Regions from separate parts of the Homo sapiens genome. Here regions 1, 2 and 3 are each linked to region 4. Evidence: fine-mapped expression QTL. A gene starts in region 4. Each other region holds a variant in brackets. All regions are shown on one strand. Distances are from middle to middle. Region 1 overlaps LOC105375228 (a long non-coding RNA gene). Region 2 overlaps DPY19L1 (dpy-19 like C-mannosyltransferase 1). Region 3 overlaps LOC105375228 (a long non-coding RNA gene). Region 4 holds the start of DPY19L1 (dpy-19 like C-mannosyltransferase 1).

The links. PIP is the estimated chance that this variant, and not a neighbour inherited with it, causes the effect.
Region 1: its variant is fine-mapped to the expression of DPY19L1 in whole blood (TOPMed, PIP above 0.99).
Region 2: its variant is fine-mapped to the expression of DPY19L1 in whole blood (INTERVAL, PIP 0.99).
Region 3: its variant is fine-mapped to the expression of DPY19L1 in whole blood (INTERVAL, PIP above 0.99).

Annotation. Positions count from the first base shown.
Region 1 is chr7:35,093,644-35,099,207 of GRCh38, forward strand. All of the region lies in intron 1 of LOC105375228 (a long non-coding RNA gene), which reads left to right. It also overlaps the pseudogene DPY19L2P1. Among named protein-coding and RNA genes, the nearest start is that of DPY19L1, 59 kb to the left of the region's middle. The variant T/C (reference allele first, on the strand shown) is at 2,763.
Region 2 is chr7:34,989,531-34,995,094 of GRCh38, forward strand. It overlaps DPY19L1 (dpy-19 like C-mannosyltransferase 1), which reads right to left. Exons shown (of 22, transcript NM_001366673.1): 7 at 354-411. Among named protein-coding and RNA genes, the nearest start is that of DPY19L1, 45 kb to the right of the region's middle. The variant T/C (reference allele first, on the strand shown) is at 2,836.
Region 3 is chr7:35,076,803-35,082,366 of GRCh38, forward strand. The region is part of intron 1 of LOC105375228 (a long non-coding RNA gene); the gene reads left to right. It also overlaps the pseudogene DPY19L2P1. Among named protein-coding and RNA genes, the nearest start is that of DPY19L1, 42 kb to the left of the region's middle. The variant G/A (reference allele first, on the strand shown) is at 2,672.
Region 4 is chr7:35,034,374-35,039,937 of GRCh38, forward strand. DPY19L1 (dpy-19 like C-mannosyltransferase 1) reads right to left here and starts at 3,112. Exons shown (of 22, transcript NM_001366673.1): 1 at 2,724-3,112. The coding sequence starts at 3,021. LOC105375228 (a long non-coding RNA gene) reads left to right here and starts at 2,413. Exons shown (of 3, transcript XR_001745162.3): 1 at 2,413-2,548. RefSeq lists silencers at 2,802-2,971, 3,002-3,671 and an enhancer at 3,722-3,951.

The DNA.
Region 1 (5,564 bases), 59 kb after region 4:
CAAGTGGGTCCCTGACCCCTGACCCCCGAGCAGCCTAACTGGGAGGCACCCCGCAGCAGGGGCACACTGACACGTCACACGGCAGGGTATTCCAACAGACCTGCAGCTGAGGGTCCTGTCTGTTAGAAGGAAAACTAACAAACAGAAAGGACATCCACACCAAAAACCCATCTGTACATCACCATCATCAAAGACCAAAAGTAGATAAAACCACAAAGATGGGGAAAAAACAGAACAGAAAAACTGGAAACCCTAAAATGCAGAGTGCCTCTCCTCCTCCAAAGGAACGCAGTTCCTCACCAGCAACTGAACAAAGCTGGATGGAGAATGACTTTGACGAGCTGAGAGAAGAAGGCTTCAGACGATCAGATTACTCTGAGCTACGGGAGGACATTCAAACCAAAGGGAAAGAAGTTGAAAACTTTGAAAAAAATTTAGAAGAATGTATAACTAGAATAACCAATACAGAGAAGTGCTTAAAGGAGCTGATGGAGCTGAAAACCAAGGCTCGAGAACTACGTGAAGAATGCAGAAGCCTCAGGAGCCGATGTGATCAACTGGAAGAAAGGGTATCAGCAATGGAAGATGAAATGAATGAAACAAGTGAGAAGGGAAGTTTAGAGAAAAAAGAATAAAAAGAAATGAGCAAAGCCTCCAAGAAATATGGGACTATGTGAAAAGACCAAATCTACGTCTGATTGGTGTACCTGAAACTGACGGGGAGAATGGAACCAAGTTGGAAAACACTCTGCAGGATATTATCCAGGAGAACTTGCCCAATCTAGCAAGGCAGGCCAACATTCAGATTCAGGAAATACAGAGAACGCCACAAAGATACTCCTCGAGAAGAGCAACTCCAAGACACATAATTGTCAGATTCACCAAAGTTGAAATGAAGGAAAAAATGTTAAGGGCAGCCAGAGAGAAAGGTCGGGTTACCCTCAAAGGGAAGCCCATCAGACTAACAGCGGATCTCTCGGCAGAAACCCTACAAGCCAGAAGAGAGTGGGGGCCAATATTCAACATTCTTAAAGGAAAGAATTTTCAACCCAGAATTTCATATCCAGCCAAACTAAGCTTCATAAGTGAAGGAGAAATAAAATCCTTTAGAGACAAGCAAATGCTGAGAGATTTTGTCACCACTAGGCCTGCCCTAAAAGAGCTCCTGAAGGAAGCGCTAAACATGGAAAGGAACAACCAGTACCAGCCGCTGCAAAATCAAGCCAAAATGTAAAGACCATCGAGACTAGGAAGAAACTGCATTAACTAATGAGCAAAATCACCAGCTAACATCATAATGACAGGATCAAATTCACACATAACACTATTAACTTTAAATGTAAATGGACTAAATGCTCCAATTAAAAGACACAGACTGGCAAATTGGATAAAGAGTCAAGACCCATCAGTGTGCTGTATTCAGGAAACCCATCTCACGTGCAGAGACACACATAGGCTCAAAATAAAAGGATGGAGGAAGATCTACCAAGCCAATGGAAAACAAAAAAAGGCAGGGGTTGCAATCCTAGTCTCTGATAAAACAGACTTTAAACCAACAAAGATCAAAAGAGACAAAGAAGGCCAGTACATAATGGTAAAGGGATCAATTCAACAAGAAGAGCTAACTATCCTAAATATATATGCACCCAATACAGGAGCACCCAGATTCATAAAGCAACTCCTGAGTGACCTACAAAGAGACGTAGACTCCCACACAATAATGGGAGACTTTAACACCCCACTGTCAACATTAGACAGATCAACGAGACAGAAAGTCAACAAGGATACCCAGGAATTGAACTCAGCTCTGCACCAAGCGGACCTAATAGACATCTACAGAACTCTCCACCCCAAATCAACAGAATATACATTTTTTTCAGCACCACACCACACCTATTCCAAAATTGACCACATACTTGGAAGTAAAGCTCTCCTCAGCAAATGTAAAAGGACAGAGATTATAACAAACTATCTCTCAGACCACAGTGCAGTCAAACTAGAATTCAGGATTAAGAATCTCACTCAAAACCGCTCAACTACATGGAAACTGAACAACCTGCTCCTGAATGACTACTGGATACATAACGAAATGCAGGCAGAAATAAAGATGTTCTTTGAAACCAACCAGAACAAAGACACAACATACCAGAATCTCTGGGACGCATTCAAAGCAGTGTGTAGAGGGAAATTTATAGCACTAAATGCCCACAAAAGAAAGCAGGAAAGATCCAAAATTGACACCCTAACATCACAATTAAAACAACTAGAAAAGCAAGAGCAAACACATTCAAAAGCTAGCAGAAGGCAAGAAATAACCAAAATCAGAGCAGAACTGAAGGAAATAGAGACACAAAAAACCCTTCAAAAAATTAATGAATCCAGGAGCTGGTTTTTTGAAAGGATCAACAAAATTGATAGACCGCTAGCAAGACTAATAAAGAAAAAAAGAGAGAAGAATCAAATAGACACAATAAAAAATGATAAAGGGGATATCACCACCGATCCCACAGAAATACAAACTACCATCAGAGAATACTACAAACACCTCTACGCAAATAAACTAGAAAATCCAGAAGAAATGGATAAATTCCTTGAGACATACACTCTCCCAAGACTAAACCAGGAAGAAGTTGAATCTCTGAATTGACCAATAACAGGATCTGAAGTTGTGGCAATAATCAATAGCTTACCAACCAAAAACAGTCCAGGACCAGATGGATTCACAGCCGAATTCTACCAGAGGTACAAGGAGGAACTGGTAC[T/C]ATTCCTTCTGAAACTATTCCAATCAACAGAAAAAGAGGGAATCCTCCCTAATTCATTTTATGAGGCCAGCATCATTCTGATACCAAAGCCGGGCAGAGACACAACCAAAAAAGAGAATTTTAGACCAATATCCTTGACGAACATTGATGCAAAAATCCTCAATAAAATACTGGCAAAACGAATCCAGCAGCACATCAAAAAGCTTATCCACCATGATCAAGTGGGCTTCATCCCTGGGATGCAAGGCTGGTTCAATATACGCAAATCAATAAATGTAATCCAGCATATAAACAGAGACAAAGACAAAAACCACATGATTATCTCAATAGATGCAGAAAAGGCCTTTGACAAAATTCAACAACCCTTCATGCTAAAAACACTCAATAAATTAGGTATTGATGGGACATATTTCAAAATAATAAGAGCTATCTATGACAAACCCACAGCCAATATCATACTGAATGGGCAAAAACTGGAAGCATTCCCTTTGAAAACTGGCACAAGACAGGGATGCCCTCTCTCACCACTTCTATTCAACATAGTGTTGGAAGTTCTGGCCAGGGCAATAAGGGAGGAGAAGGAAATACAGGGTATTCAATTAGGAAAAGAGGAAGTCAAATTGTCCCTGTTTGCAGATGACATGATTGTATATCTAGAAAACCCCACTGTCTCAGCCCAAAATCTCCTTAAGCTGATAAGCAACTTCAGCAAAGTCTCAGGATACAAAATCAATGTGCAAAAATCACAAGCATTCTTATACACCAACAACAGACAAACAGAGAGCCAAATCATGAGTGAACTCCCATTCACAATTGCTTCAAAGAGAATAAAATACCTAGGAATCCAACTTACAAGGGACGTGAAGGACCTCTTCAAGGAGAACTACAAACCACTGCTCAAGGAAATAAAAGAGGATACAAATGGAAGAACATTCCATGCTCATGGGTAGGAAGAGTCAATATCGTGAAAATGGCCATACTGCCCAAGGTAATTTACAGATTCAATGCCATCCCCATCAAGCTACCAATGCCTTTCTTCACAGAATTGGAAAAAACTACTTTAAAGTTCATATGGAACCAAAAAAGGGCCCGCATTGCCAAGTCAATCCTAAGCCCAAAGAACAAAGCTGGAGGCATCTTGCTACCTGACTTCAAACTATACTACAAGGCTACAGTAAACAAAACAGCATGGTACTGGTACCAAAACAGAGATATAGATCAATGGAACAGAACAGAGCCCTCAGAAATAACGCTGCATATCTACAACTATCTGATCTTTGACAAACCTGAGAAAAACAAGCAATGGGGAAAGGATTCCCTATTTAATAAATGGTGCTGGGAAAACTGGCTAGCCATATGTAGAAAGCTGAAACTGGATCCCTTCCTTACCTTATACAAAAATCAATTCAAGATGGATTAAAGACTTAAACGTTAGACCTAAAACCATAAAAACCCTAGAAGAAAACCTAGGCATTACCATTCAGGACATAGGCATGGGCAAGGACTTCATGTCTAAAACACCAAAAGCAATGGCAACAAAAGCCAAAATTGACAAATAGGATCTAATTAAACTAAAGAGCTTCTGCACAGCAAAAGAAACTACCATCAGAGTGAACAGGCAACCTACAAAATGGGAGAAAATTTTCGCAACCTACTCATCTGACAAAGGGCTAATATCCAGAATCTACAATGAACTCAAACAAATTTACAAGAAAAAAACAAACAACCCCATCAAAAAGTGGGCAAAGGATATGAACAGACACTTCTCAAAAGAAGACATTTATGCAGCCAAAAAACACATGAAAGAATGCTCATCATCACTGGCCATCAGAGAAATGCAAATCAAAACCACAATGAGATACCATCTCACACCAGTTAGAATGGCAATCATTAAAAAGTCAGCAAACAACAGGTGCTGGAGAGGATGTGGAGAAATAGGAACACTTTTACACTGTTTGTGGGATTGTAAACTATTTCAACCCTTGTGGAAGTCAGTGTGGCGATTCCTCAGGGATCTAGAACTAGAAATACCATTTGACCCAGCCATCCCATTACTGGGTATATACCCAAAGGACTATAAATCATGCTGCTATAAAGACACATGCACACGTATGTTTATTGTGGCATTATTCACAATAGCAAAGACTTGGAACCAACCCAAATGTCCAACAATGATAGACTGGATTAAGAAAATGTGGCACATATACACCATGGAATACTATGCAGCCATAAAAAATGATGAGTTCATGTCCTTTGTAGGGACATGGATGAAATTGGAAATATCATTCTCAGTAAACTATTGCAAGAACAAAAAACCAAACACCGCATATTCTCACTCATAGGTGGGAATTGAACAATGAGATCACATGGACACAGGAAGGGGAACATCACACTCTGGGGACTGTTGTGGGGTGGGGGAGGGGGGAGGGATAGCATTGGGAGATATACCTAATGCTACATGATGAGTTAGTGGATGCAGCGCACCAGCATGGCCCATGTATACGTATGTAACTAACCTGCGCAATGTGCACATGTACCCTAAAACTTAAAGTATAATAAAAAAAAAAGTAAAAAAAAAAAAAATCTTACATTCCTTCTCATGTTAATAGTTATTATTTTTTAAATATGATGCTATTAGCAAATTTTAGATTGGCATCCTTAATACATTAGTTAGATGTTAGTAATTCCACTTTTCCCTATAACTGTATTTTTCTTTTTAATCAGAAATCAATCTTGAGTTTTGTTCAATAATTTTATGATATTTATTCTGATTTTTATATTACTTTCTATTAATATATTGGT
Region 2 (5,564 bases), 45 kb before region 4:
AGGATCACCTGACCCCAAGAATTTGAGGCTGCAGTGAGCTATGATCTACCACTGCACTCCAGACTGGGCAACAAAAAAAGACACTGCCTCAAAAACAAAAACAACAACAACAACAAAAAAAAAAAACAGAATTGATACAGTTGATACAGACCCATTATTTCATCAAATTACTAAGCCTTATATCACATAAGAAGTACAATGGTCATGAAAAGTTAACTCAAATGAATGCTAGTGTTTAAATTTTGAATCAAAATAATAAGATCAAACATTTAAAGAATGCCATTATAGATTAAATTTAAAGAAGAAAACTGCATTTCCAGAAGTAATTCTGAGAATAGTTTTTGATTACCTACCTCTCCATGATTGAAAAAGAAGCACAACACTGTAACCAGGCCTCCTAATCGGCTGCCACTGGAAAAGAAGAAAACATAACTCAAATAACAAAAATTCAGGTCAATCCTAAGAAAAACCTTAAAACACATAATATCATAACCACTGGTATTATATAAGATTTTATAGTCATACTAGAACTCTCCTATGCTTATTTACAAAATAGTTTATTTCCTCCAAAAGATCATTAGTCAAAATAATCTTTTCTCATTTTTTAAAAATCATTTGCTACCTTCAAAATGTATAGACTCAGAAAAGCACGCAAACTGAAAGGGAATAGAAAATTCTTAGTAGTCATATTACTGTACATCACGCAACCTGATATTTCTTTTTATTTTCTTTAGTACCTCATATTTATTTATGTCCTTCAACATTTCTCAAACTGCTTTCCTTGGGACAGATGACATACATTAGGAAAAAGGGAGAGAAAGACGTGCAAGGAAAGGGATCCATGGTCATAAGGATGGAAAACCCCACACTGCCTACCTGCTCCTAGAAATTCACAAGGCACTTCCACACATTAAAGATTTAATTTTATATTTCCCAAATCCCATCCCCAAGCTACTTTTCTGCAGAATACACTTGAGGAATACCAATTTATAAAGTTTTATGTTTCATTTGATTTCAAAAACTGGAATAGAACACAAATATCAAAGTATGACAATCAGGCTTATAACTCTAGGTAAGAAATTACAATGGTATAATCTGGTAGTTCTAACAATTAACCTTCATTTGCTCAGATGAGAGTGAAATATGTTCCCTATTGTCCCCCAAGTCTGGGTAGGGGACATAAGGCTATCTTTAGGTTTATTTCATCATGTTCTGCATTTTTACTCTTGAGGTCTTCTCACTCATTTTAGCTCATGCTGCTTTCTCATTATTCTACCCAAATATCCTTCCTTCTTTTTCTCTATCTACCTTCCTTTTATTTCTCTATCTATAAGTATACCACAGAGAGGTCAGAGAGGAAACAAAGAACCAGATGGTATAGGCATCAAAGGCCTTGTATTTACTCTTGTGATGTATCAATGAGGAAAAGAGGAAGAGATGCAATGGCCAGCAGGGATAATCCATGTAGGGAGTATCCAGAAGGAGACAGGTAGGGCTGGGACCCCAGCACAGGTGGCCTGTTTGCCTTGGCAAAAGAGGAGGAAGACTGCATATTAGTGGTAAGTACTTTGTGGAGCTTCCATGTTCCCCACAGAGCAGAAGACACAGCCACTCGCTGCCAGAGTGAAACGATGGCAGCATTAAACGTTTGAGGAAAGACAGAAATGTCTGAAATACCACTCACATTTCAGGAGAGTGGTAACTGGGGAAAACACAGTGCTGCTGGGATATCTTAGGGGAACAACTGAGGCTGCAGAACACAAATCTACAGGGTCAGTAATCATAAGACTGTGTGATTTTTGCCTACCGATTATCAGCCTAGACAGCACAAATGAAATATAAAGGGGCAAAGAAACTGAAGCCAGAAAGTGTCTGAAGTGATGGATCACTGAAATGAGAGCATCAGACAGAGGAGCTTAGAAAGCAGTACAGGCCAGGAAGTGGACGCCAGGGTTCTCTCCTGAAAGGTGTACCACATCTTCTTCAGAAGAGAAGCACACAGGCTAGGCCCAGGCTTCATCACAAGTGATTAGACATTAGAAAGGTTAAGATAGAGTTAACGGTTTAAAAAACAAATAAATACATTTTAGTGTTTTGAACTTACTCTAACAAGACAAAAAATATAGAAGTTTATAGGGGAAAAAAAGTGATTTTCTCACTACCCTCTCCCAATCCTATTCACCTAAGAACATTTTAGTATGTGTCTGTTCTTCCAAATCTCTCTCTCTAACCACACAAACATATATTTTCTATGTGATCAATATAACATCTCTCTGAAATTTGTTCCTTTTCTAATTATTCTAGCATAAAGATTATTCCTAATCAATGTATGTAAACTTAAAGGGATTATTTTTATAGATGGCAAATACTGTATAGTACAAATATATTTATTTAGTCCATTCCATATTACCGGGCATATAAATATTTTTCAGTTTCTTGCTATAATAAAAAATGGTTAAACATCCTCGTACATGTAAATGCTGGCACGTTTGTTTCGGCAGGAGGGACCTAACTGTGAGACACGTGAGTCAAAGGATGTGAGCTGTGCCCGGAAGCACTGCAGCAGTCCACACTCTTGTCACAGAGTATGCAGGAGGTCGTTTCTCCACCCCTCGTGCAGACTCATGTGCTTTTCAAATTTTCTCCTTAGATAGGTGAAAACCCTTTTCTCACTGCCTACTTGTATGCAGTAGCATTTTAGTGTTTTGTTTTGACAACATGCATTTTCTCTTCCGTGAACTGCTTATTCATATTCTTGTCTATTTTTCTATTTGACTGTTCCCTACTTAAAAATTAAGGTTATCAAACCTCTGACTGTCAAATGTGAAAATAACA[T/C]TTAAAAGCTGTCCAAAAAAACAACCCCTTTAAGCCTTGAGAGAGATGTGACTGTGATCTGAGTCACATATGGTTACAACTTCCGTTCTCAGATTATAGATTAACTTGCTTTCTTATTTTTCCTGTTCAGTACAATGACTAGAGAATTAAACAATGTCAGGCACAAAACCTTCCTGCCTTTTTTTTTTTTTTTTTTCCAGAGACTGGGTCTCACTCTGTCACCCAAGCTAGGGTAGAGTGGCACAATCATGGCTCACTGCAGCCTCGAACTCATGGGATCCAGCAATCCTCCTGCCTCAGCCTCCAGAGTAGCTGAAACTACAGGTGTGACCCTGCCTTCGTAGTTAATAACCCCTGTTAAAGATTAATTTTCCCTGTGTTGTTTTACTTTGCTTAGATCAGACTATAGAAAACCCATCATTATTATACTCTCTGTAAAAAAAAAAAATGTTTTTAACTGTACCCTTCCCCAAAAGAAATAACACCTATAACCAATCAAACTGCTGTGACTATGTGCCAACCTGTATGAATAATGTTGTATTCCTGCTAAAAATGTCTCTGCCTCTGCCTATATAAATGAAACCTAAACTTCCTTACTTCCAAAGTCTGACTTCATTCCTTTGGAGTTCGTGTTCCTGAGTGGTCTACCCTCACACTTTGTGCTTGAATAAACGCTATTTAGATTCTGATCCTTTTGATTATTTTAAGTTAACACATATGTGTGACAAAGTATTCTGATCTAATTTGCGGCGTATTCTATCAGAAAGAATTTTTAAACTTTTATGTATTTAAATATGTTGATATTTTCCTTTATTTCTTCTGCACTTCCTGTCTTGTCTCTGAAGGTCTTCCACACCTTAAAACTATAGTCTCCTAAAATTTCTTCTAATATTATAAATTGCATTTTCCACTTAGCTCTTTCTCCCTAATTTTGTTCTCTTTGAAATAGCCAATTATATTAAAATCATTTATCAAGTAAACATCCCTTTTACCAGCGAAATGAAATTCAGCCTTTATCTTAATTTCTTACAATGCTAGACTCTGTTCTATTTCATTCAACTGACTTAATTCTGTATTTTTTTTTTTGTTATCACACTATTTTTATTACTGTAGCATTATGGTAATTTTAACACATGATTTTAAAAAGCTACCCACCCCCAACTACTCTTATTTTTAAGATTTTTTAGGTAATTCTTACCAACTTATTCTTACATATAACATCTGAACCAGTCTCCCAACCCTGCCCCCCCACCCAAGAAAAAATTGTCAGACTTCTGATCAGAATGACATTAAATTTATATATAATTTGGGTTGGGAAGGGCTGTCATTTATATGATGGTCATTCAGTTGCACAGTATATCTCTTTCCATTTACTCAATTCTAACTGTATTCCTTTAAATAAAAATGTTTGGGGTCAGGCACAGTGGCTCATGCCTGTAATCTCAGCACTTTGGAAGGCCAAGGCAAGTGGATCACTTGAGGCCAGGAGTTCGACACCAGCCTGCCCAACATGATGAAACACTATCTCTACGAAAATACAAAAAAAAAAAAAATTAGCCGTGTGGTGGCGCACAACTGTAGTCCCAGCTACTCAGGAGGCTGAGAGTCAAGATTCGTTTGAACCGGGAAGGTGGAGGCTACAATAAGCTGAGATTGCGCCGTGGCACTCCAGCCTGGGTGACAGTGAAACTGTCTCAAAAAATAAAAATTTTTTTGGACAACCAATGTAAGAGTCAAGTACTAAAAGTTAAAACTTCTAGAAATACAAAGAGAACATGATAAAATCTGATCACAGTAGAAAATTTTAATTCTTTCATAATCTAACAGGTCAAGTAAGCTAAAGGAAACATATTAGGGATCTGAAGGAGATAATCAACAAGCTCAATGTCGTGACTATACAGAGATTACACATCATTTTCTTATGTCACTGGAACATCTAGTTGCAAAGGCACCTCATTCTCTGATTAGAATCTAAAACAACCTAAAACACGAAAGATGAGTTTTTAAAAAAAATGACACTTGGGGAATTTAATGTAAAATTTCCTTTTAAAAATTCCCTGAACAACGAGGAATCAAAATGGAAATTTAATAACTTTAATTTTCTAAATGGCAGAGTAAAGGTAGAGAAAGAACAAAAGACTCACAAATCCAATTCCCTGGCGGGGCGCGGTGGCTCATGCCTGTAATCCCAGCACTTTGGGAGGCTGAGGCGGGCGGATCACGAGGTCAGGAGATCGAGACCATCCTGGCTAACATGGTGAAAACCGTCTCTACTAAAAATACAAAAAATTAGCCGGGCGTGGTGGTGGGCACCTGTGGTCCCAGCTACTCGGAAGGCTGAGGCAGGAGAATGGCGTGAACCCAGGAGGTGGAGCTTGCAGTGAGCCAAGACTGTGCCACTGTACTCCAGCCTGTGCGACAGAGCAAGATTCCGTCTCAAAAAAAAAAAAAAATCCAATTCCCCGACCAAATCTCAGGATGAGGTTTGCCTAAGAAGTCGCATACCCTCACTCAGTTGCCATACAACCTGGGAGGCTCTGAGGTTGGACAATTTCCTGAGGGCAGAGCCACGGTGACAACATTCCTTTTTCACCAAATTACTAAAATACAGGTTATGGTCCAACATCTTCCATGAATATGGGCCCAGCTTTACTTAACTAACAAAAGAGGCCGATTTTTTTCTATACACTTTTGGGAACTGCAAAGCTAGAGGAGGAGAATAAAATTTA
Region 3 (5,564 bases), 42 kb after region 4:
AACTCTTGATGCTTATTTAGGCTCCCAGAGTTACCTAAAGAGAACATGAGGTTTAAGAACCACTGATGAGGAATCAAAGCCCTACTTTGAAGAGTATAAATATATATTAAGCATTATATACATATATACACACACATTTTAAAGAATTATAAAATGAACACTTGTATACTTAACACCAAGGAATTGAATATTAACATTGAAGCACCCAGGGCTTCTCCTGTATTGCATTCTTTCCTAGAAGTGATCACCAGCCTATGTTTTGAATTAATTATGCCTATGCTTTCGCTGTTTTGCCACACTATATCTTCTATAATATTGTCTTGTTTGCTTTTAGGCCCTATGTAAATGGCATATATATTGACATGCACACACATCCCCTTTGATGACTTAGTTTTTTAACAGTCTATTTGACATTGGTTCCCACTGATGCTTGTCACTGTAGATCACATTCATTCCTTTACAATATTACGTTGTATGGAAATATCCATTTTATCCATTCTGTTGGTGGGCCTTTGAGTTGTTTTCAGCTTTTTTTCCTCAGGTACAAATAATGCTTCCATGAAGATTCTTGTAATTGGTTTCCTTGGTATATTTGTAACAACATTTCTTTAGGGTGACACTATAAATTGCAGAGACTACATACTTTAAAACTTATTAGGAATTAACAACTTATTTTCTAAGGTGGCTGTACCAATTTACACTCCTACTATAATTTCATGAGAGTTCTTGTGGCACCCTGTCCTCACCAATTCTTATCTGAATGTAAATATTACCATGTGGTTTTAATCTGTATTTCCCTATTTTCTTCTAAGACTTTAAACATTTTACTTTCATTTAAGTCCTTGACCCATTTAAATTTGACTTTTGTGCATGAAGTTATATATATATACCTGTCCTTTTGAAAATGTCCTTATATTTCTCTTATTAAGAATTTTCAAAGATTTTTCTTTCCCCTTATCTCAATCCCCATCCTTTATGAACAGACTCGATGAATTAAAGAATATGAACCCATACAGAGCTTCAGAGACATACACTTTCTAAAGAATATGGTGAGTTTTTCTGGACATAGAACAAATACAAATGAGAATAATAACAAATACTATTTTGGGCCTCACAAATTAGCAAAATATATTCTTAATAAGGCTAATTAATCCCAGTGAGAGTGTTGTAAAATGAGCATTGTTATACACACTAACTTTTGGTGGTGCATACAATCCAAAAGGTGCACACATACCTTTGCAAAGGTAATTTGAGGCTAACTGCATTGAAGGCTTTAAGGGTGTCCACAGTTTTTTTAAGGAAATTTAACTTTATGAAATCTTTCCTATGGAAATAACTTTAAAATCATAAAGTATGCACTAAGATGTTCATTGCAGTGTCTGTATGTATATCTTAACCACTTTTGAGCTATTGCCATTTTTGCTGCTATGTGTATGTATATATATAATTGTCCCCTTCTTTAAAATGTCCTGTTTTTTTCAAAACTAATTTTTCTGTGAGTTTGTCCTTCGTGTATAATAGGAACATGTAATGTATAAAAATATAAACATAATTTTATTATTAAAGTACTCAGATTTTTGGTGTCTATCAGCAGCAAAGTGGTAGAACACAGATACTGTTGAAGCTGTGCATTTGCTTCTGACAACCGGATGAAGCAGATGAAGGAATTGTTGCAGCTTGTGTGCACCTCACTTCTAGCCATAGTTGCAGATTAGTGTGCAAACATAGGATCCTAGAAACTATGGAAAAAGCTTCATTGAATTAAGTGAAAATCTCCTCATGTTTCAAAAGAATAAAAAATAAAATTTATACAGGCAAGAATTCAGTAGAACAATTTGTATAAGAACAAGCTGCAGCCCAGTACTCCTATTTGTTGACATCAAATAAAGGGGAGACTATTTGGAATTCTGAAATGAGCTAACCTCACTCTGCAACTTGATATTACTGAAATGGTTATTAGTGAGTTGTAGTGGGTAGTGCAGAAGAAACTAATGTTTGTTGAGTGCCTTTATGTGCCAGGTACTTCAAAACTTTGTTTCACTAATCCTCATAATGACTCCGCCAAGTAGGTATTGTGAGTTCTGCTTTACAGGTGAAGAAAGCTCATGGAGTTAAGTAACATGACCAACCATAGCATGGTGCCTGACATACAGTAAGTGTTTAATGAATATCTTTTGAATACATGGTAGGTACCTAACTAATGGAAGCAGTATTCAAACTTCGATACATCTCATTGCACAGCTCACACTATTTCCATCATAGTATATTGCCTTCTGTGTAAGACTATACAGAATCATTTTTAAATGGCTAAGAAAGAGCACTGCCAGTGTAAACATGGCTAGTAAGCCCAGCAACCTATTTCTCCCTTTATATGAGAACAATTTCAATTTCAAAATGTATGCATTGTGAAGGATGAGAAAAGACAGAAAACAGGATCTTCAAGGGCTTTACAGTTACTTAACACAGCTAGTACATGAAAATAACATAAATATATATGAAAACATCGTATGTGTATGGAACATTTTATTAGTACAGCTCATCCATTTTTTGTTGAGTTCTACTGACTTTTTAAAATTTATTTTACTTTAAGTTCTGGGATACATGTGCAAAACATGCAGGTTTGTTACATAGGTATACATGTGCCATGGTGGTTTGCTGCACCTATCGACCC[G/A]TCATTTAGGGTTTAAGTCCTGCATGCATTAGGTATTTGTCCTAATGCTCTCCCTCCCCTTGCCCCCCACCAACAGGCCCTTGTGTGATGTTCCCCTCTCTGTGTCCATGTGTTCTCATTGTTCAACTCCCACTTATGAGTGAGAACATATGGTGTTTGGTTTTCTGATCTTGTGTTAGTTTGCTGAGAACGATGGCTTCCAGCTTCATCCACGTCCCTGCAAAGGACATGAACTCATCCTTTTTTATGGCTGCATAGTATTCCATGGTGTGTATGTGACACATTTTCTTTATCCAGTCTATCATTGATGGGTATTTGGGTTAGTTACAAGTCTTTGCTACTGTAACATCATCTGAAATGTGTTACTTTAATTTTATGTTAGGTGTTACGTCTCTTTTCCTTTTTTGTCCCACACATCACTGAAACAGATTATTTGAAAATGCTAAAATAAGTAAAATGTGCGGCATGCTTTCTTAGATGCTTTGTCTCCTGTACCAAAATAATTTACAAATACAAAAGTTGGAAATAATTTTATTAGTTTTTTAATGCATAAATCCAAACATATATATGTACTGAATATTTTATTAGCTAATACAGTACCATTTTAAAAATTCTACCAACTTAAACTATTTCCTGTAAAAACATCATCCAAAATATACTTTGTTAATTTTTATGAATGTTATTTTTTTAAGTCTCTTTTCTTTGACGCTCTCCTTTTTTATCCTGTGCTTACACCAAAAACAAATTATTTGAAAATGCTAAAATAAAATGTGGCATGTTTTCTTAGCTGTTATGTATTCTGTTATAACATTTTACAACTATTAAAGTTGAAAAATAACTTTATTGGTTTTGCTGCATATAGCTGCCTGTCTGCTATAAGAGAACTAATCTATAAAATTAAGGCATTTTGTTATTTCAAGTGTAGAGGGGCAAGAATGTAAGGGAATTATAAAAACCCCAAGATGACTCATTTAAAGTAGATGCACATTAAAATACTATAGATCTGGCATATTTCATATTTATAAAGCAGACAAAAAGAATGTTTATCTTTGCATTTGGCAAGAGTATCTATCTTCAAGATAACTACCACTTTTCAAAGCACTATTGTTGGGTAGGTTTTATTAGGGGAGAGGACTTAGAAAACATGACTTTCCTCATCCAAAACCAAAAATAAATGAGGGCTTAAAAATATATTATTTAAGAAGATGATAGTGGCCAGAAATAAAGACCATGACCAACAAGCTTTGGGGCCATCAAGATGAAAAGCCGTTTGCTTTATTCAAGATCTAGGATCTGAAAATCTCACTTCATAAATTTAACTGGATTTTCTTTTCTGATTATGTTTAACCCCAAAATTTGGTTGTATACCATAGCAGTTTCTATTTTACCTGGATGTTAAAAGAAAAACCATTGGAATCTAAAGAGAGATGAATAACCTCTTGAGCTTAGATGGAGAACTAACCAGTGGCAAATATGTATCTAGTGGGGTAAATACATCTCAAGAGATTCAAAACGTTACAAAACAAGGTGTTTTTAAAAACACTTCAACTTGAAATTATAAAAAAAAAGTATTAAAAGGTATTAGAGATCTTTCTTAAGGGCTGGTGAAATAAAAACACCTTAAAAGACACACTGTTACAATTTGCTCACAGAGGTAAAGAGGTTGTGATCAGTATCAGCATTTTAAGGATGTCATTTCAGAGCTTGCGTTCTTCTCCCTTAAGTGGTTCAAAGAGTTTGAGCAGGTACACTCTGGTACTAGGGAAAATCTGAAGCAATTCACCTAGTTGGATGAAAAAGGACTTACGTACCCTTGATTTATTAAAATTCATTGTTCTTTTATATACATTTTTCTTTAAAATTCTGAAATGAACATTTGTTTATGCAGTATGACATGAATGATTTAATAACTTATATGACAAGCTTAATAAGGCTGACATTCAATGAACAGAAAAGTAATTTACCTTTTAGTAATCAGAGAAACTTTCAATCCATTTTTATCTTATTTTTAAGTGTCTGTTATTAAAGCTTGTGATTTTTATTAATGTAAATAAGCCAAAGGGTGATTGTTTTTGACACACCACATTGTGCCATAGTGTAATGGGTAGTTTCCTTCTCAGTTAACCCTCAATACTCTGTACACACTATTCTGAAATACTGTGGTGAAGTAAGGCCTGGCATCTTTGAGCAGGACGCTACATAAGGGAGGGTTAGCTGCATTGGAAGGGTCTTCCACATCACAGATTTCAAGCATACTGCAACCAGGCCTGAAAAAAGACAGACATATATATCCATATTAGAAATGTATTCCTGTCTAGAGAAAATAGATACATAACACAACATCTAGATTTTCAGAGACAAATTTATTTCATAAGTTAAATATTTTAAAGCGTCATTTCAAAAAACAATTTCAATGTTTAGAAATTTAAAAAATAGAATGAAATTAAGCATGTTGCATTTTCACATCTCATTTAACCAAATGAAAGACATATCCTAATAATAAAGCTTCAATATACATTCATAAATATATATGTAAAAGCACACTTTCAAGATGAAACAAACATAAATATAATTTCCAAGTGCCATCACCATCTAAACATAAGGCCCATTTGTAGTAAAATAGACAAATTAAAACCTAATCGAATTCCTGATAAATTTAACATTTTTTAGCATAAACTGCCTTGGATTAGCATGAAATGATCCAAGGCAGGGACAGGAGACTCTTATGGCAATTTGTTTTCTTCAATGCTTTCCCATTTTGGGTGGCTCTATGACTGGGCTAAATGAGACACTTTCCTCCCTAGAGAGTAATCCTGGATGGCAGTCATTAAAGGGAAGGAGTCAGACAAAATTGATTTCTAATTTTTTAACATCTATATTGAAGTATAAGTTA
Region 4 (5,564 bases):
TTGTTACAATGTCAGCTGTGGTCAAAAAAGTTTGGGAAACATTGTCAAGGTTCTTACTATGTCACAGCCACCTCTGCATGAGGAAGCTATCAGGTTGAAACTTCTAAAAATAAACATGTCAAGAACCCCTCTTTACAAATATTAGCACTAAATAAGTAGCAAATAATGCCCCACAATAAGAAAAACATATATTTATGAAAAGAGACTTTTCAACAATGCTTAACCCTGCCCAACAGTGGAAAGACCATGTTGGAAGGCAGTGAGTTCCTCATCAGTGATTAGAACCTATGGAGGAAAGCCCCAGACAGTTTCTAACTCTTGAAAATGTGTGTTTCTATCACGGAGCTTTAAGTTACAAAATTACTTTCTAAATAGAAATGAATCCATTTCTGTCTAGCTTAATATTTAGTTGTTATAATTGTTCTTTTTTTGATCAGTTACAAATGAACTCTTGATGAACAAAAGAATATGCAATGCAATGTGGAAAACCAAACAGCTATTTTAAAGTCCCACATTGAAATACTGTATAATGTCAGCTCAACTCTCACTCATTCTGGGAGGGGGGAAGAAAACAGGAAATAAGGCAGCTTTCAAAAATGTCTAAACTCTGCTCCTCTCTGCAGGATCTGAGTGGTTTTTTGACGCTGTGGCAGGGCATAATCGTGGGGAAGAAATAGGTCTGACATCAGTTTATGACGGTACAGAGCCAGAGAAAGAAGCAACCCAGGTCCAATCATTCAGCAGAATCATCTCTCAAGGTGCCCTGGGGCCTCATGCAGAGGGTTAACAAGGACAGAAAGTCTCTAGACCTGGGTCTGTTCATCCAACTTCCATATATCTGATGGCCATGGTCCAGGGTACACCCAAAAATACAATCTACCACATTCACTGTACCTCCTTTCAATGCTCAAAGGGGCAAGTCAAGCAACGTGCTATACTGTTACATTAATACAAAACTGTATTTAGGTATGGGAATTACTAAATCCAAAGGTAAGTCATCCAAATATAAGTCATGCATCCATCCAAAGAAGATTCAAAGGAAACGCAATCAAAAAAGAAAATATGCAGAAAATAGCAATAAATATCATTATTCTAAGATTTGTTATTGTAACATCCCTGAAGAAGCAATGCCATTCTATATTTTACTACAAAGTGGTTAATGTTTAGTCATTCAATAAAAATGCAACTCCATTCTGTCATCAGATCTCAAATCAGCATCACACACTTTCTTTTATTACAACAACTACAATGTGTCAAGTGCTCTAAACACAAAGTATCTTCCCATGTATCACCCACACCTTTTAGTTATGATCCTTAACAGATCCTGTGGATCCCTGTGGAGTAAATTCGCCATGTGATAACCCCCCACTAGCAGAGAACGAAAGACTCACAAAGGAACCTGAAACTTAAACCAAACTGAACCGCTGTGTACTAGATCTGAAGGCTCTGCCTCATCCACTGTATCGTGCTGCCTCCCCAAGGTGAGCTTTTCTAACCTGCATACTAGCCAGCTTTTCAAGCTTGCTACTGAGATAAAAAAAAAGGGGGCGGGGGGAAATGTGCTGGAAACAGACAAACAAACAAACAAAGAAAAACAAACTTGGTTTTTCTAGGCTTGAATCGGCAATGGGGGGAAAAAAAGTACCCTAGGAACAACCTTCTTGAGCCCATTAAAACATACAGAGATGACTGGCTTTTTATGACTGAGTGGCTTTTATTTGTGGCTGTGATCTCAGGGGAAGCCAATTTGCTGTGTCCTATTCCTTGACTTATACTGGACCCCAACTCCTGGCTAAGGGAACTTTGAGTCACCAAGGGAATCTGAAAATATACTAAGGGATAAATCAACAGTAATTAAATAGTTCAGTAGCGAAAAGCCCACTGAGGCATATAGAAAAAAGCAATGTAACAGCATTTCACTAGTTGACTTAGAAAAATTAGGCCTGTTATCCAAACTGCTACAACTTGCCTTATCAAAATTCAACCAGGAAACAGAGGAAACCTGAAGTCAGTCCGAAACATACGAATGCGTCAACTTTGTTTTTTTTTTTCAGCACATCATTACACATCATCCATTTGGTAAATGGCAGAGGGAGGGGAGGAGAGCCCTCCTCACCAAAGGTTCCAAGGGCAGCAGGGAGGATTAAGGCTCGGGCGCCCCAAACACAACACAACCTAGAAAGTGACGTGTCGAGGGGAATCACAAATAAAGTGCCACCAGCGGCGTTTGCGGCCAGGAAGAAAAAAGTACGCTAAAATTTAATTATAAGTTTAAGCAACTCTCTACGACATGGAACGTGCGTTTGCTTTGAGCTCCACGGAATCGTTTCCAAGCCAAAGCAAACCATCCTGGCGGTCAGAGGCCGAGATAACGGGAAGGCGGCCAGTCGTACCAATCAGCAGCGCTCAAGTCTCGTTAGCGCAGACCTGCTGCCCGCGGCCAGGCCGGGCAGCTGTTGATCCCCGGGCCATTCTTTTAAAGCCCAGGCAGAGCGCGGGTGGGAAGCGTGCGAGGAGAGCTGAGCCAGGGAGTTGCGGGGAGGAGAAGGTAAGAATGTCCCAGAGAAAAAGTCGGAGAGGGCTGCAAACTGGCTGGTCCGGCTGGCGGGGCTCGGCGCGGCGGAAGCGGGAGGAGAGGGGAAGGAAGGGGAGGGGAGGGGAGGGGAGGGGGCCAGCGCCTCAAAGTTCCGCGTCCCGGCGGCGCCGGCGCTAGGGCTGCTCACCTAACAGGAGCGTGGTCCAGGTCCGGCCGCGCCCCGCGCGCCGCAGGCCCAGCGCCCAGCGCAGCCGGGCGGCCAGGCGCCCCCCAAGGCCGCCCCCGGCGGGCGGCGCGCCGGGCTCGGCGCGGGGCCCCTTCCTGCCCGCGGCGCCCTTGCGCCCCGGGGACAGGGGCGCGCGCTCGGGCCCCGGCTCCCCGGCGCCGACGTCCGACGCCCCCCTCAGCGGCGACTGTGAGGCGCGGGGTGGCTGGGGCGGCTTGGGAGCCGCCTCCCGGTGCTTGTTCCGCGCCTGCAGGACCATCTTGGCATAGTCGCGCCCGCTCGCTGCGCGCGCCCGGACGGCGGCCAGAGAACGGCGGGCTGGCTGGGCGGCTGGGCGCAGCTCACTCTCCAGCGGGCGGGCGGGCGGAGGGTGGAGGGCGGGCTCGTCCCTCCCCGCGGGCCGGGAGGCGGGGAGATCGTGGAGGCCGGGCGGCTGCTGCCTGGCTGGCAGTACCGCCGGGAGGCGGCGCCGGACTTGCTAGCCCGCCGCCGTTGCCGCCGCTCCGGTTGTCACGGCGACCGCGGAACGCCGGGGGGCGGGGGCGGGGACACCCTGCGAGCGGCCGCGGCCCCGCCCCCGCCGCCCCTCTGCGCCGGACGCGCGCTCCAGGCCGGCCAGCGCGCACGCGCGGACTTCCGGCGCAGGCGGGGCCCGACCCCTCTGGCGCCCGGCTACCCACACCTCTTCGGCGCCCGCGCGGGGCTCGGCCGGTGCGAGGACGCGGGGGCGGACGGCCTTCCGGAGGCGGCCGCCCTTCCATTGTGGGAGTGATGGGGCCGAAGGAAGAGCCCTCTCGGGATCGGGGCGCTGATTCAAGTTTCGGAGCCTGTTAAGGCTGCGCTTGGAGCCCGCGCAGGCGAGACGCGGCGGGGCAGGGAGAAGGCGCCCGGAGCGGCCACTTAGGGGCGCTGTGCGTGCGCCCTGGGCGCCTGGTCGGCCCCACCGATGTGAAGCGCGCGGGTGGCAATCAAGTCACCGTCTCCGTTTACTCCCCGCAGTGTGGTCGCGCAACTTGGAGCGCAGCCCCTCACTCACCGACAAGAAGAACGGGTGCGACCCGATTTAAGATAGTAACAGAGTATTAAAATAGCAGCCTGGAATCTCATGGGGAGCTGATAAGGGACGAGGCACAAGTGTAAACTGAAGACCAGGGTAGGAGCCAGGCTGAAGGTGATAGGATGGATTGGCTGGAGCAGGAAAGATCATCAATAAGTACATTCAGTTTGTTACACTTGCTGTAACCTTGTTGCTTAATAGGAAGCAGGAAAACTTGGCGTTGATAAGATAGGAGATTTTAGTCGAAAATATGTTTTCTTTTACATAGCAGAATGCACGAGTAAATTAAACCCGGGAAAATTTAGAAACCCAGGTAGATCCCAATTCTCCCTCCACCCCTGCATTCTTTGCACACAGTCTTACAACAGCATGGATTACAACTGGGAGGTTCCTTTCCTGGCCGTGCCCAGTGGCTTGTTCCAAAAAGTTGTCTTTAAGTCCCAATGTTGTAAATCAAGGCCCATCGTTCTGCTTATCTCTATTGTAATTCCAGGGACTTCACGTGGCTTTCTCGCTCTTTGTTTCTTTGCCCAGTGATTTCTTTACTAATACCAGCATTCGTTCATTGTTAGCCTTTTTAAGAGACAGTGGATTATTTTGTAAAGGGAGGGTGTTTGCCATGCTAATTAATACTCCCTCATACCCTGTCTAGTTTATGAATTTGGATTTTCCAATGTCTTTATTGGAGCAAAGAACAACTATTTTTATACACTGGTTTAAAAAATAATGGTTGAAAGTAGGATGCAGAAGGCTTGGATTCTGAAACATTGTGTCAGCTGAACTCAATGCTACCTCTGGGATTAATGTTGAATGTATTCAGTTAAAAGAAAGCTAATTCAATGCCTATTAAAGATAATACGAATAACTGGCCGGGCACCGTGGCTCACGCCTGTAATCCCAACACTCTGGGAGGCCGAGGCGGGCAGATCACGAGGCCAAGAGTTCAAGACCAGCCTGGCCAAGATGGTGAACCTCTGTTTCTAATAAAAATACAAAAATTAGCCAGGCGTGGTAGCAGGCGCCTGTAGTCCCAGCTACTTGGGAGGCTGAGGCAGAAGAATCGCCTGAACCCGGGAGGCGGAGGTTGCAGTGAGCTGAGATACGCCACTGCACTCCAGCCTGGGCGACAGAGCGAGACTCCATCTCAAAAAAATAAATAAATAAAAATAATACAAATGATGGATTTTTTTTAATGATTAGAAAGACGCATGGAAAAAGAGGTTCAACATTTGAATTATTAGATTGCTGTGTGTCTACTTTATGTGATAGGCCCTGAATTCAGGAACTGCCTCCCTTAAGCTGGTACCGTTTGTACCAGGAAAACACTTGTTGAATGAGTGAGTGAATGAATGCAGTTCCACAAGTGCTTGTCAGTTCCCCTTCTCGGCTTGGCAACCATGCGGAGAGGGGCAGTGTGAGGTATTAGTTTTTTGGTTTTTTTGTTTTGTTTGTTTTTTTCTTAAACACGGTCAATTTAGATCCAGTTTGCAGCCACTACATTGACCCATACCAGCCTTGACCAAGGTATTATACCTCTTTGAGTCTGGATTTCTTCATTCTTAAAATGGAGGCAACAAAAACATCTAGTTCACAGGTTTGTAAAAAATAAGACAATGTGTGTAAAGCATCTAACAATTACATATATCCAAGTAGTTGCTCAGTGAATGTTCAAATTGTCTGGATGTTGGTAGTTGCTCAATAAGTGTTCAAAGTAGTGGATGACGTTTAAGGAGAGTGGCAAACTT